2 separate regions of the Homo sapiens genome follow, and region 2 is linked to region 1. Evidence: fine-mapped expression QTL. Tissue or cell type: whole blood. Region 1 holds a variant in brackets; the other region holds the start of a gene. All regions are shown on one strand. Distances are between the middles of the regions.

Region 1 (8,107 bases):
AGAATCACTTGACTTATTAACTATAGTCATCCTGCTCTGCCATAGAACATTGGAACTTATTTCTTCTATTTGAATGTATGTCTCTACTGATTAATCAACTTCTCTCATCCTCCTAAGCCTACTACACACACACACACACAATCATTCCCATTGTTTGCAATTCTTTAAGATTCTTGACTCTGCATGTTTATAATGTTCTTGCAAATATGAAAACATTTCGTACATTATTTAATCAAATATTTTCACTGGCTGCCTCCTTGTCCTTGCACCCTCCTCCAACACCAGAATGCCAATGGTGCATACATAAATATTTGATATCATTCCAAAGGCCACTGAAATTCTATTCAGTGTGCCCCGTCGCCCCCCATCCCATCTATTCTATCTGTGCTTCATTTTGCATTGTTTCTATTGCTACATTAAAGGTCACTGATCTTTTTTCTTTTCTTTTCGAGACAGGGCCTTGCTCTGTCAACCAGGCTGGAATGCAGTGGCACGATCACGGCTCACTGCCACTCCAACCTCCAAGGCTCAAGTGATCCTCCTGCCTCAGCAGCCTCCCAAGTAGCTGAGAGTATAGCCATGCACCACCACGCTCGTTTTGTTTTGTTTTTGGAGACAGGGTCTGGCTCTATCACCCAGGCTGGAGTGCAGCGGTGCCATCTCGACTCACTACAACCTCTGCCTCAAGTTCAGGTAATTCTGGCATCTCAGGCTCCCAAGTAGCTGGGAATTACAGGTGCCTGCCAACACGCCCAGCTAATTTTTGTTAATTTTTAACTTTTTTGTAGAGATGGTGTCTCCTTATGTTGCCCAGGCTAGTCTTGAACTCCTAGACTCGAGGAATCCTCCTATCCTGGCCTCCCAAAGTGTTGGCATTACATGTTGGGATTACAAGTGTCAGCCACCACCCCCAGCTTGATCTTTTCTTTTCCCATGTCTAATATCTTGAAATCACCATCCAGTGATTTCATTTGTGTTGTTCACCTCTAAATGTTCATTTGAGTCTTTTTTATATTTTACATTTCTCTTATGTTAATGTTTTACTTTAAATCCTTGAGTATACTGAGTATATTATAATCATGCCCTTTTCTGCCATTTCCTTCATTCTGTCATTATTGCATCTGTTTCTGTTGTTTGCTCCTTTAAATATTCTGTTACTGGTCCAAAAATATACGAACTGATAATAACATGTCCAGAACTCTTACGTAAGTTCAACATTCCTGGGACATCAATACTTGTGATTTTCTAAACAAACTGGAATTTAAAAAAAAAAAGTTTCTTTGGCATAGATAATTTGAGAAGTACTGACCTAGACTTTTAGGTTCAGGGTTAATATGGACATATTTTCTCTATACTTTGGTTAGCTTCACTAACCAATGTATTTCATCATCTTCACTTCATTTATCTCTTTCAACGTTTCCTTAAATGGGTCTGCTCATTTCAGTGCCTCATCTAAACTTATTTTTAATATTAAGGTTTGAAAAACCTTCTGGTATCTGTATTCTTGATAAAAATTTTTATTATGGCTTTAATATCTGAATGACAACTTGGTGGGATTTAAAATCTAGGTTCTCTTCAAACCTTAAAAAATGCTCCCAGCACTCTGGGAGGCCAAGGTGGGCGGATCACAAGGCCAGGAGATCGACACCATCCTGACTAACATGGTGAAACACCGTCTCTACTAAAAATACAAAAAATTAGCCGGGTGTGGTGGTGGCCTGTAGTCCCAGCTACTCGGGAGGCTGAGGCAGGAGAATGGCGTGAACCCCGGAGGCGGAGCTTGCAGTGTGCTGAGACTGCGCCACTGCACTCCAGCCTGGGCGACAGAGCGAGACTCCATCTAAAAAAAAAAAAAAAAAAAAAAAGCTAATACATTTTCTGCTTACATTCAAGAGTTACTGCTGAAAAAGTGTGATGCCAATCTAATTCTTCTTCATTTGTTTGTGACTTTTTTTTTTCCCTCATCTCTGCAAGTCTTTAGCATTTTCTTTATCTCTGGCAGTCTTATATTTTAACTTTAACGTATGTTGTGTTTCTTTCTTCTCTCTTGACTCTGAACTCCTTTTAATCTGAAATTTCTCACCTCTCTCTTTTCTCTCTCACTTTAATTCTAGAAAACTATCCCTTTTATCCCTTTAAGTATTTATTCTCCACTTAAAAAAAATTATCTCCCTTCTTAGATTCCTATCTTCTGGATGTCAATACCTTTATTTCTGTATTTGATAGCTGTCAATTTTTCTTTTATATTTGCTATTTCCTTGTCCTTTTATCCCCGTGAAATATTCTCTTTAATCTTCCAATTAACAATTTTGTTCTTCAAATAGATCAATTCTGTTATTCATCTTTTTGTTTGTTTGCTTGTTTTCTCCACGACAGAGTCTCGCTCTGTTGCCCAGGCTGGAATGCAGTGGTGCTATCTTGGCTCACTGCAACCTCCACCTCCAGGTTCAAGCAATTCTCCTGCCTCAGCCTCCTGGGTAGCTGGGATTACAGGCACATGCCACCACACCCAGCTAATTTTTTTGTAGTTTTAGTAGAGACAGGGTTTCACCATGTTGGCCAGGCTGGTTTCAAACTCCTGACCTCAGGTGATCCACCCGCCTCAGCCTCCCAAAGCGCTTGGATTACAGGCATTAGCCACCATGCCTGACTCAACTAATTGTTATATTTTTAGTAGAGATGGTGTTTCACCATGTTGGCCAGGCTGGTCTTGAACTCCTGGCTTCAAGTGATTCGCCTACCTCAGCTTTCCAAAGTGCTGGGATTACAGGAGTGAACCACCATGCCCAGCATATCTTACATTTTGTATTATGTTTTTGATATTGAGTAATTTTTTCTTTTAGATTTTATTTCATATTATCTTCCTCTAATATTTTTAATACATTTATTAGGATAATTTTATATTCATCATTTGTCTAATCTAGTATTTCTACTACTAATGGCATCTGTAATCCAGTATATTATTTTTCTTTCCTTTGAATGTTTTATTTGGTCTGTGTGCTCATTTTCTTCTAGGAAAATACATTTAAGCAATGTATATAGACGATGTCAGCCCACAATCACTGTCAGCCCCATTGAGCTCAAGACATACAGGTGGAAAATACCTAAGGTGGAATATTCCAGGCAGCAGAAAACTACAATCTCTCATCTTTTCTCAAAACAATTCCTTGGGAAAGTAGCTTCACTATTTTTTCACATGTTAAAGCATCTAAATGGAGACTCTTCTTCGACTATTGTGATAACATGAAATATATATTTGTTTTTTGTCTCCATTTCCTGACATACAGCTTCTAAAATCCTTGTAGATACAGGCACTAGGAGAATCTTTTGTTCTAATATTTGTCCTTTGACTCCTGGTTCCTGACACCGAGCTCCTAAATCCCTAGGAATTTCCTAGGTGACAGAAGACTCTTTTGTTCTAATGAGGCAATCTTGGTGGGCTTCTAGATAGCCCCAGGATGGTGCTTGTTACCAAGGGAACCAACCATGTGTTTAGAGAGTTGGAAAGTTCATAGCCCCACCCCAGACCTCCAGGGAGAGGAGAGGGGCTGAATTGAGTTGATCAACAATGGCCAATTATATAATCAATGATGCCTATGTAATGAAGTCTCCATAAAACCCCCTAAA[AAT/A]AGAGTTTGAATGAGGTTCCAGACTGGTGTACAAGAACACATCCACGTGCCAGGTGGGTGGCACACACAAACTCCACAGGGATGAAAGTTCCTGTTCTCTGGACCCTTCCAGATCCCATCCCATGTATCTTCATCTGGCTATTCATTTGTATCCTTTAAAATATTCTTTGTAATAAATCGGTAAACATAATAAGTAAAGTGTTTCTCTGACCTTTGTGAATTGCTCTAGCAAACTAATTGAACATGAGAAGGAGCTGGTCTATAGCTGATCAGTGAATTTTATAGCTGCTCAGTCAGAAGTATAGGTGACAACCTACTACTTGCGATTGTCATCTGAAGTGGGAGGCAGTCTTGTGAGATTGAGTCCTCAATCAGTGGGATCTGACGCTAGCTGTAGGTAGACAGCGTGAAAAAATAATTCAGTTGGAGGATATCCAGCTCATGTCTGCTGGAGATCTGCTAGGTGTGTAAGAAAATACCCCAACACATCTGGTGTCAGAAGTGTTGTGTTGAGTCGACAGTGGAAAAAACAATTTGGTTTGGTTTTTCCTGCATCTCTTACCAACTATAGCGTATTAGCACTGAGAACTGTCTGGGTAAGAGGTAGGGAAGCAAAAGTTCATTTTTTAAATCCACTCAGAAGGAAAGGGCCTCTGCACTATCCTGAATTGACTCCTCAAAATATCAAAGGTCTGATACTTTACAAGTGTACGCGAGTTAGGCACCTTTGCTTCAAAGGCGTGAAGAGCTTCAATAGTTCCTTTCCTATTTTTTCTTCTGATAGCCAAGAGGATGCCCTCTCTCTTGACCTGGGACAAAGCTTCTCTATTCCACACACCAGTTCAAAACAGCCTTTCTTCCACCAACCTAGGGGATTTCTCACCATTTGCTCAGAACATTTAGTTTTCCCTTCTAACTGCTGAAGCTGACCTTGGGTGAGGAAGCCAAAAGTCACACTTCTTGAATGTCTTTTAAGGAATCTAAACCAGTTCATTCATTGTAATGATGAAATATCTTCTCATCTGAGTATATTAAGAGGATTTTCCCCCAAAGCTTTCAAAACAGTTCCTTGTATTTTCCTGGCTATTCTTTTTTTCCTACATGTTTATTCTCTCTCATGTTGGGAAAGCTCTTTTCAAATGTTGCACATGCCTTGGTTATCAATTTACATAAAAGAGAAAAGAATATTATTAAAATGAGTGGATGTCAGTTTACTGAGGATCTCACCTAAGGACTCTAAATTTTCAGAATTTTTTTCCTCTGGAAAATTCAGATTTCTACAAAGACAAAATCCCCCTCTAAACTCTTAGTTAAAAGGTATATGCCAACCTGCAGTATATTATGAGCGCAAGAGATGGAAAGTGACTTAGGTGGAAGGGACTCAGTACGATGATTTTAAAGCTGCTAAATTGTAAAATACAAAATGCAAGAAATTAAGATAGAATAGGGTTTAACTTTTTACACTTATTTGAATTGTTAAAAAATTTTCTGGCCAGGCACGGTGGCTCACACCTGTACTCCCAGCACTTTGGGAGGCCGAAGAGGGAGAATCACAAGGTCTGGAGTTCAAGACCAGCCTGACCAACATGGTGAAACCCCGTCTCTACTAAAAATACAAAAATTAGTGGCGCGCTCCTGTAGTCCCAGCTACTAGGGAGGCTGAGGCAGGAGAACTGCTTGAACCTGGAAGGCAGAGGTTGCAGTGAGCCAAGATCGCACCACTGGACTCCAGCCTGGGCAACAGAGTGAGATTCCATCTCAAAAAAAAAAAAAAAAAAAAACTTTTTTTTTTTTCCTAAGTTTGTCAAGGCACAGTTGAGGAAAGAACAGAATCTATATCAAATGTTAATATTAATGTAATTAATATATATTGATGTATATTAACAATTGTTTACGTATCTAGTCATAAATACAGAGGCAGAGCTGGGAAAAGTATTTAATATATATAAAAATTTAACATATACATACATAGATCTATATATGAAAATTAGATAATGTTGAACAAAAAGTAGAGAAGAGAGAAAAGGAAAGAACTGCCGCCTTGGGCAAGACCAAAGCAGCACTGGGTAAGAGTATGCGAGACAGTAAAGTCAACAAAGCTGTAATGACAGCTATGATGGACAGGTAGTGCTAAAGCTGAAACACAAGGAAAAGCCTGTTGGCCACAACAAATTAATTAAGCCTAGAAACAACAGTGGTGCCGGGTACAGTGGCTCACACTTGTAATCCTAACACTTCTGGGAGGCCAAGGCAGACAGATCACTTGAGGTCAGGAGTTTGAGTCCATCCTGGCCAACATGGTGAAATCCCACCTCTACTAAAAATACAAAAACTAGGCTTGGTGGCACGCACCTGGAATCCCAGCAACTCGGGAGGGTGAGGCAGAAGAATCACTTGAACCCAGGAGGCTGAGGTTGCAGTGAGCCAAGATCGCGCCACTGTACTCCACCCTGGGTGACAGAGCAAGACTGTTTCAAAAAAAGAAAGGGGGGAAAGAAACAGCACTGGTATTTTCTGAAGCACAAGTTATAAAACAATGTTATCCATTCAAAAACCAGAAGTCATACTGATAAGAGCACAATAAGGCCAGGTACATAAAACTAAAAAAATTCAAGGCATACTTAGATGTGATATAAAATGAGATGGCTAGTACAATGGCCTGCGGGGGCCATCTTGTGCATTCTCTCAATCTTCAAATGTCTTTGTATTAGAGTTCTCCACAAAAACAGGACCAATAGAGTGTGAGCATATTTGTGTGTGTTTCTCTGTGTGTTTGCATATGTGTGTGTGTATACATATATATATATAGGCTCATTATCTCATATGATTATGAAAGCCAAAATCCCATGATCTGCAGCCCACAAGCTGGAGAAACAGGAAAGCCAGTGGTGTGTCTTGGTTCAAGTCTGAAAAATGAAGAACCAGGAGCACCCACATCTGAAAGCAGGAGACAAGGATGTTCCAGCTCAGAAAGAGCCAATTCATCCTTCGTCTGCCTTTTTTTTTTTTTTTTTCTATGTGGGCCCCCAAAGGATGGACAATATCTGCCCAAATGGATAAGGGTGGTCCTTCCCTACTCAGTCTACTAGCTCAAATGCTAATCTCTTCGGAAACACCCTCACAGACACAGTCAGAAATAATATCTTACCAGGATCTGGGTATCCTGTGGCCCAGTCATGCTTACAACATAAAATGAACCATCACAGTCCTCAACCAACACTATCTCGTATATCCTTAAAACAGAGAAACCAAGGTTCAGAAAAGTTACCTACTGTCACAAAAGTAAGTAAACAGCTAAACCAAAAATCAAACTCGTGTCTATCTAAATCAAGAGATCAAACACAAATGCCAACTAAGATTCTGTGGAGGAGATAATAGTACAAAGTTAGGCCCTTGCTCCAAGAAAGTTCCTGCAGACGGAGATCAGATTTATACACATCAAACAATACAAACCCTGTATTATTCTATATTGACTACAACTTATAAACAAAGAAGCCTAGAGGAAAGAAAGATTCAGAATTAAACAGATTCCTTCATTCAATGAATGCTTCTTAAGAACTTGATATGTGACAAGCACTGGTAACCACAAAGTCAAAGCAGTGTGTTAACAAAACTCCTACCTATAGAGCTCATAATCCTGTGTGAGTGTAGAAATGGCAATAAACAAGTAAACGTGTATGTCAGATGGTGATAAGTGATTTAGAGAAAAATAAGCATTTTCGGGAAGAAAAGAGGTTCCAGGGTGGTGGTTTATACTGGGTAGTCACTGCATGTAAGTCTAATCAGAAAACATTTAATAGAAAAGACAGAACTTGAACTAGGCTTTCAGCTAGATTTTGAGTTAAATTGTAAATTGCTGGAGTCATGAAATCCTTAGCTTGCTTCATACAAACCAAACATACATTTTTACTGTCAGCTGGCTATCTACCTAAAGCCATCATAGGTGGCCTTTATTCTCATAAAATGACAAAGATATATATAGTCTAATTCTTAATATTACAAACTCAGATATCTGATTTTGTAAGCATACTGAGACTAGATGTCCTATTAGGGACAAACTTAGTAATCAAGCTCATAGCTACTGATATATAAACCAGAATGCAAATTTATTACTTTAAAATGATAATTATTAGCTGTTAATTAGTGTAGAAAGCATGGGGATTAACAAATAATACAAACTTTTCCTTAGGAAAGCTAAATCAAAATATTACTTGATAAACACAAATGACGTAAAACAGGGGAATAATAAGCCCAAGAATACTAGAATAGGGTTTCTTCTACCTCAGTGTTTTGGTTTTTTGTTTTGTTTTGTTTTGAGACAAGAGTTTGGCTCTGTCACCCAGGATGGAGTGCTGTGAGGAGATCACAGCTCACTGCAGCCTCAATCTCCGCGCTCAATCAATTTTTATCCAGTTCACCCTCTGGAGTAGCTGAGACCACAGGCACACACCACCCACCCAGCTAATTCCTCCGACAGT
Region 2 (8,107 bases), 190 kb before region 1:
CAGAGTAGCTGGGACTATAGGCATGTGCCACCATGCCTGGCTAATTTTTGTATTTTGGATAGAGATGAGGTTTCGCCATGTTGGCCAGGCTGGGCTTGAACTCCTGGCCTCAAGTGATCCGCCCACCTCTGCCTCCACCTCCCAAAAGTGCTGAGATTACAGGTGTGAGACACTGTACCCAGCCCCTTCTATTTCTTTCTTTATAGCCTAGGAGTTATTGCTTTTCTCATGTAAATACCTAAACTCTGGCCACACCTTTGTAAAACAGTCCGTTTATTAAACCCTTCTGGGATTATTTTGAGTATGTCATTGATTTGCTTTAGATACAATGCCTCTGGTAGTCTCAATAATGGTCCGAAAGATACCCAGGTCCTAATCTGTGGAAGCTGAGAATGTTACCTCATATGGCAAAGGGACTTTGTAGGTATGATTAAGTTAACCTTGAGATAGGAAGACTATCTTTAACTATTTTGTGGACCAAATGTATTCACAGGGTCCTTACTAGAGGGAGGCAGAAGGATTTTAAGAGGAAATGACATGACAAAAGCAGCAAGAGCTTTGAAGATGCAGTGCTGCTGGCTTTGAAGATGGAAGAAGGGGCTGTGAGTCAAAGGAATGCAAAGAATGTAGCTCCAGAGGCTGGAAAAGAAGGGGGCAAGGCCTTGCTGTATACCTTTGTTTTGGCGCTATGAAATTATTTTGGTCTTGGCCGGGCATGGTGGCTCACGCCTGTAATCACAGCACTTTGGGAGGCCGAGGAGGGTGATTCACGAGGTCAGGAGATCGAGACCATCCTGGCTAACACGGTGAAACCCCGTCTCTACTAAAAATACAAAAAATTAGCCAGGCGAGGTGGCAGGCGCCTGTAGTCCCAGCTATGTGGGAGGCTGAGGCAGGAGAATGGCGTGAACCCCGGGGGTGGAGCCTGCAGTGAGCCAAGATCGAGCCACTGCACTCCAGCCTGGGTGAAAGAGCGAGACTCCGTCTCAAAAAAAAAAAAAAATTATTTTGGTCTTCTAGCCTCCAGAACTGCTAGCCTCCAAATTTCTGTTGTTTTAATCCACTAAATGGGTAGTAACTTCTTACAGCAGTCATAGGAAATTAATACAGTGCCCAAGATAGAACTTTTCATTTTCCATACAAATTAGCTCCTTCCTATTGTTACCAGGGGGTCTTTGTTCTTAGAGCTCCCAAGATGGTGGCAGGCCACTTCCAAGATGGCGGCAAGCCTTTTGTTCTCTGACCTGGGGTTCTTGGCCTCACGGATTCCAAGGAATGGAACCTTGGGCCATGCAGTGAGTGTTATAGCTCTATTAGAAGCCGTGGGTCACAGAAGAGAACCGTGGAACCCAGCAACTAGTGTTCAGCTCGATTAGGACAAACCCTGGGCACTTAGCCTTGCAGGAACAATGGCGAGCCTCTAGCCCGATTGGGAGCAGCAATGGGCGCCTCGCTGGATCAGGAGCACAGTGGACACCCTGATGGATCCAGAGGGGTGGAAGTCAGCGGCGGGTCTGTGATGGCAGCAAACAGCGGTGGTGGACGGTGAGTGAAAGCTCAGCTCAAGCTGTAACAAACATGGACCAGAAGAGTGTGCAGTTGCAAGATTTAATAGAGTGAAAACAGAGCTCCCATACAATGGGAGGGGACCCAAAGGGGGTTGCCACTCCCTGCTCGAATGCCTGGGTTTATATCCTGATCATTGTCCCTCCCCCTGTGCTCTCAGGCGATATATGATTTGACTATTTCTTTACCTTCTGCTTCTAGCCTAATTTGTATTTTAGTGAGCCCTCTTTACTACCTGATTAGTCGGGTGTGAACTGAGTTACAAGCCCTGTGTTTAAATGTGGGTGTGGTCACCTTCCCCAGCTAGGTTTAGGAATTCTTAGTTGGCCTAGGAAATCCAGCTAGTCCTGTCTCTCACTATCTTGTCCACTTGGTTGTTTACTTTTTTATTTTTTTATTTTTAGAGACAGAGTCTCTCTGTGTCACCCAGGCTGGAATGCAGTGGTGTGATTGGTCTCAGCTCACTGCAACCTCTGCCTTCCAGGTTCAAGCAATTCTCCTGCCTCAGTCTCCCCAGTAGCTGGGATTACAGGCACGCGCCACCACACTTGGCTACGTTTTAGTGCTTTTAGTAGAGATGAAGTTTCACCACGTTGGCCAGACCAGTCTCAAACTCCTGGCCTCAAGTGATCTGCTCTCCTTGACCTCCCAAAGAGCTGGGATTACAGGGGTGAGCCAGTGTGCTAGGCCACTTGGTTGTTTAAATACGAGATTTGATTCTTCCATTTTCTGTATGCTTTACTGCCATTCCATCACTAACTCCTCTCAACCTGATGCCCAAAAATATATCTTGAATATATCTACTTCTCTTCCAAGGTTTCCGGCACATGGTAGAAACATGATAACTATGTAATGAGTGGATGCATGACCCAATCTTCCCTACTTCCATTCCAGTCTGAGCGCCCATAATTAGTCAATCAACTAGCTTGTCTTGGTTCTTTTTCCTTAGGCCTTCCACAATCTATTCTTCACATTACAGGGAAATTAATCTTTTCAAAACTGTAAATTAAAGCAGATTATTCTCTAGCTTAATATCCTTTACTTATTTCCCAATGCACTTTGAGTAAAATTCAAATGTTTCATTGTGCACTGCAAGGACACCTATGTTTTGGAAGTTTCCTATCTCTCTGGTATCTTCTTTTGCATCTCTCTGAAATGCTGCAGCTCCCGCCACCCGACCTCCCCGCCTTTAGAGTTGAGGCATAAGACATTTCCTTTGTCGAGAAGGGTCTTTGTTTAACTGGCATTTTAAGGTTTAATCTTAAAGATTACGCCCTTAGCCAGGTGCGGTAGCTCATGCCTATAATCCCATCAGTTTGTGAGGTCCAGGAGGGCGGATCATTGAGCTCACTTGAGCTCAGCAGTTCAAGATCAGCATAGGCAACATGGCGAAACCCCATCTCTACAAAAAATACAAAAATTAACCTGGCCTGAGCACTTGTAGTTCCTAGCTACTTAAGAGACTGAGGTGTGAGGATCGCCTGGGGCAGGGGGCGGGCAGAGGGAGGTTGCAGTGAGTGGAGATTGCGTCAGCAAGACACTTTCTCAAAAAAAATCACGCCCCCCATGAAAGGCTTTCCTTTACCACCCAACTCCACCTTGGTTACTCTATCACAGCTCCCTATGTGTTCCCTTTCCAGCATAAATCACAACTATTTGTCAGTGAATTCCATGACAGAACGAACCTAGCTTTTGTTTGGCACATAATTGTTAAATGAATGCAGTATTATATTTGGCTAGACCAAAATTGTTTCCCTATCAGTTTGTGAGCAACTTGAGGGCAGAGCCCTAAATCATTCGAGTGTGCTGACCTCTAGGGGGGTTAGTCCAGTGCATGGTCTAGAATTGCTCAAATCGGCCTTTTGAAAAAATGAATCATGTACAATGATAAAGGTGTGGACAGGACCACAAGTAACGGTGTAACGATTAGCAGATTTAAGGAAAAGTCAGTCTAAAAGGAAACGTGAGAAGCTAATTGCAGAAGACAGCCATTTCAAGTCTTCAACAGCAAGGCTGTACCTCCTCACGTGACTTCAGTGTAGACTTTAAGAACCTAAACTAACGCTTCTCGCGAGAGGAAAGATTGACCGCTCGCAAGCGTACATCAGCTGGTGCCCCGCCTTCCCTGGGCCCCACCCACTGCCTGTCCTCATTCCCACCTTGAACCAGCCTTTTGCGCGTGTGACGTCATGGCGCCGTGCGTGGCCTCGGCGGTGGCGCAGGGGGCGGGCCCGCGGCGCGGCGCCGGAGGAGGAAGTGGTGAGGTTGTTGCTCCTTCAGCGCCTATCGCTGGCTCTTGGGGCGCAGAGAGGGGCCGCAGTCTCCGCGGCTGCGTCGAGCTCCCTTGCAGTCCCCTCCATGTTCCCCGGCGCCACTACTCCCCTTCCTAAGGCCGCCGCTTACCCCGGGGTCTATGGAAGTAATGGAAGGACCCCTCAACCTGGTGAGTGTCCCACAGAATATAGCGTTCGTCTTGGGTGCCTTTGCCTCAGGAGCCCGGCCCCGTCCCCGGCGCGTCGGCTAACCCTTTAGGCTGGGAGGTTGGTTTGGCAGGAGTGGTCGCAGAGGCTGTGAGGGGCTGCTAGGCAGGCCCTGGCCCAACTGCGGCTCCAGGCTAGCCACTTCAGACTTTGCCCTCCTGGGGGATCCCCGGGAAGTCCTGGCGCCCCCTGTCGCGGGGCCCCGGGCGAGGGGATGCCACCACCTGGGGCTGCCACCTCCTCTCTGGCTGGGGGAAGTCCTCTTAGCGCCACGTAGCCACCTCCCTACAGCCTGGAGAGGCACTGAAGCCGGCCAAGGCAGAAATGGTGTGATACTGGTTTTAAGTTCTAGCAGCAGGGTCTGAGTCTGAGTCGCCCCGCTTTGGAGAGGTGGAGGAGTGAATAGCCTCCTCACCCTCCACTTCCCCCTCCTCACCCTTCACTTCCCCCTCCTCACCCTCCACTTCCCCCTCCTCACCCTCCACTTCCCCCTCATTTCTCACATACATTCACATGCATAAACTGAGTCTACCGTCTTCCAAATATATTAGAGACAGCTGGGAAAAAGACAGCCGTTCCTGTATTTAGCTCAGATTCATCAATTTAGGCATCATGAAAGTGTAATAGGTGTTTGCTGTTCTCAGGAAAATGGCTGATAGCCTGTTTACTTGTGTTTTAAGGCGTTTCAGGTGTTGCAATTAAAAAACAACACAACAGAACCCCACTAACAACGGGAAGCATGAGTTCTTTTCAGACTGGCCATTGCATCTTTTAGTTTTCCAGAGAGGTTACCCATTTTGGATGTAAAAGTCAGATTACTTAAGGTTGCACACAGGAAGAACTTTTGAGTCACAGGTTTGCAATTCATTTGCGATGGTGGAATTGAAAGAAAGCTCTATAGAGGATTCTTTTCTCACATTAGAACTCTGAGTCCTAGAAGAGCAGTAGAGTCAGGTGGTTTAAGACTCTAGGTTTTGAAGCTATGCTGCTTGGATTTGAATTCTAACCTCGTCACTTGATATCTGTGTTACCTTGGGCAAACTACTTGGCTTCACTCGGCTTCAGGTTTTTTGGGAGGATTAAAGGAGTAAATAGGTGTAAAGCACTTAGAACTGTACTAAGTACATAGTACAGTGTAAGAGTTAGCGATTATAACCAGACCATAAGCCCTTAATTTAAAATCTATTTGTAGAATAAAGGTTTGGACTTGAGCTTTAAAAGCCTAAGATTCTCGGACCAAATCACTGGTGCCAGGTTAACTGTTGTGAGGCGCCCCTCCCTTTTAAGTTGGGTCTTGCCCCAGGTGGTAGGTATTTACACTTAAGACGAATTGGACTACATTTGCGAGTTTTTTTTAACCAGGGAACTGGCCAGGCGCCGGGGCTCACGCCTGTAATCCCAGCACTTTGGGAGGCCGAGGCGGGCGAATCACTTGAGCTTAGAAGTTCGAGACCAGCCTGGGCAACATGGCGAAACCCGGTCTCTACAAAAAATACAAAAATAGCCTGGCGTGGTGGCGCCCGCCTGTGGTCCCAGCTACTCGGGAGGCTGAGGTGGCAGGATCGCTTGAGCCCAGGAGGTGGAGGTTGCAGTGGGCCGAGATTGTGCCACTGCACTCCAACCTGGGCGACAGAGCGAGACTCTGACTCAAATAACCAGGGAACTGTCTTGCACTTTTCTTGTTTTTAAGGCGACATATAGTTGGCAATGAAATACAGTGGATGGCTCAATACTGAAACTTCACAGGAGTATTACTAGAAATAATCAGCTGTTTACGAAGTGCTTCAGAGTTCAGGTGTCCTTGCCAAATGAGCATTGGTTCAGTTCTAGTTAGCTTCACATTATTTGGCTGCAGAATAACCCCCGCCAACTGCCCCACGAATGTGTGATGTTTTAAAAGGAGACTAGAACTGGGTGACAGTTGCAGATAGAACTGCAGAATCACTACCAGTTCAGGAAAAATTAGTTAAATGGTGGCAATACCATTTAAATTCTCCTCCATAAAACGGAGCGAGTTTCGACAGAGTCTTTTTAAGCAGGCTAGCGTAACTCCGTATTTCAGCCATAAAATTTATGTAGGCAAGTATCAGAAATTTGGCATCTTGAATTCTTTTTTTTTTTTTTTTTTGAGATGGAGTCTCTCTCTGTCACCAGACTAGAGTGCAGTGGCGCGATCTCAGCTCACTGCAACCTCCGACTCCCTGGTTTAAGCGATTCTTCTGCCTCAGCCTTCTGAGTAGCTGGGATTTCAGGCACGCGCCGCCACGCCCAGCTAATTTTTGTATTTTTAGTAGAGACGGGGTTTCACCATGTTGGCCAGGATGGTCTCGATCTCCTGACCTCGTGATCCCCCCGCCTGGCCTCCCAAAGTGCTGGGATTACAGGCGTGAGCCAGCGTGCCCGGCGGACACCTTGAATTCTTAAACCATTTGAGTCTTGAAAGATCTAATTTCCAGCATAGTTGTTTATTGGAAGGTAACAGTAGAACAGACGTTGACGGTTACTTGAATGAGTACCAATTACAGGCCTCTGGCACTCAGAATTGTCACTCACAGTTTTATAAGATGAGGTTTTTGAAAATTCAGACTTTTTTTTTTTTTTTTTTTCTTTTTTGAGACGGAGTCTCGCTTTGTCACCCAGGCTAGAGTGCAGTGGTGCGATCTGGGCTCACTGCAGCCTCCACCTCCCGGGTTCAAGCAGTTCTCTGCCTCAGCCTCCTGAGTAGCTGGGATTACAGGCATGCACCACCCTGCCCGGCTATGAAAATTCTGACATTCTTTTATGTCAGTGAACACCTAACTTAGTATCTAGTTGACTCAAGATGAGAGTTCTCAATGCTATAATTTGAATGTCTTTGAAAATTCCACTAGTATTATACAAGCTTTTTCTTTTTCTATACTCAGAGAGTTACTAATGCAATAAGCTTTGTCAAATGACGTCGTAGTGTAGTCCAAATTCATTGTATAAGGACTTATCACAGTACATGGATTTGTAATCATGTGTCCTCAGAGCATCCTCGGAACTTAGTAAGGTGTGTTTTCCAGTTTTACAGATAAATAAGCCTAAGCTGAGAGAATTAGGTAATTACTTAGGTCAGTAACTTAAATACATTATGAATCACGAGTTATTTTGATATCAAGACCTCTTTCTAGCAATGCTGCCATATTGTACTCATCATGTTCATTTCAGTATGGTTCTCATCTATATTGAACTGTAGATTCTGTGTTAGCATTTATTACCTCTGCTCCAGTATTGATTCTTTTATGTTAGGTTTGGCAGTAAGGGCCTTAGAAATTCCTCACAGTGAATTTTTAAGATCTGGAAGAGACTAGTTTGAAATATTCATTTTAATATGTACCACAGAGGTAATGGATTCTAATTATCTGGTTATTGAAGTTTGTCAAAAGAAAAATTGTACTTCCACTGAAGAAAAAAATAGCTAGTCTTTGCACTCTGAATAACTTTGTTTCATTAGGGTTTTTTGGTCAATTTTTCTTTAAGAGACAGGGTCTTACTCTGTTGCCCACACTCAAGGGATCCTCCTGCCTGAGCCCTCCACAATAGCTGGGACTACAGGTTTGCACCACCATGCCCAGCTAATTTTTTCAAAAACTTTTTGTGGAGATGGGGTCTTGCTGTGTTGCCCAAGCTGGTCTTGAACTCCTGGCCTCAAGCAATCTTCCTGTCTCAGCCTCCCAAAGTGTTGGGATTACAGGCATGTGCCACTGTGCCCAGCCTGTCAGTTTTAAATATGGAAAAATTATAACTTATAAAATTAGTGTATATTTAGATATTTCTTTCCGTACACATTTTGTCAGTGTGACTACTGGTAACAAATGTCAAAACTCTTGTGAGATAATTTCTAGTTCTTTGGTTTGTTTGCTGCTGATTTGGAAAGTGATGTCAGATCTTAATTTATATGTGGCTGTTGCTCATGTTTTGCTTACCTCTGCTGCAAAGGGCAGGGTCCATGTGACTGCCTGGCCACAATCGTTTTCTATGTGTTTAGCCCTTAAGAGTGCTGAGAATGTTTGTTGAGTAACAGCTTCCCTCCAGAGTGG

What was found. PIP is the estimated chance that this variant, and not a neighbour inherited with it, causes the effect.
Region 2: it holds the start of NRBF2, and the variant in region 1 is fine-mapped to the expression of NRBF2 in whole blood (INTERVAL, PIP above 0.99).

Annotation. Positions count from the first base shown.
Region 1 is chr10:63,317,414-63,325,520 of GRCh38, forward strand. All of the region lies in intron 2 of JMJD1C (jumonji domain containing 1C), which reads right to left. Among named protein-coding and RNA genes, the nearest start is that of MIR1296, 52 kb to the right of the region's middle. The variant AAT/A (reference allele first, on the strand shown) is at 3,628.
Region 2 is chr10:63,129,492-63,137,598 of GRCh38, forward strand. It overlaps NRBF2 (nuclear receptor binding factor 2), which reads left to right and starts at 3,837. Exons shown (of 4, transcript NM_030759.5): 1 at 3,837-4,009. The coding sequence starts at 3,980. RefSeq lists silencers at 3,654-3,903, 4,114-4,383.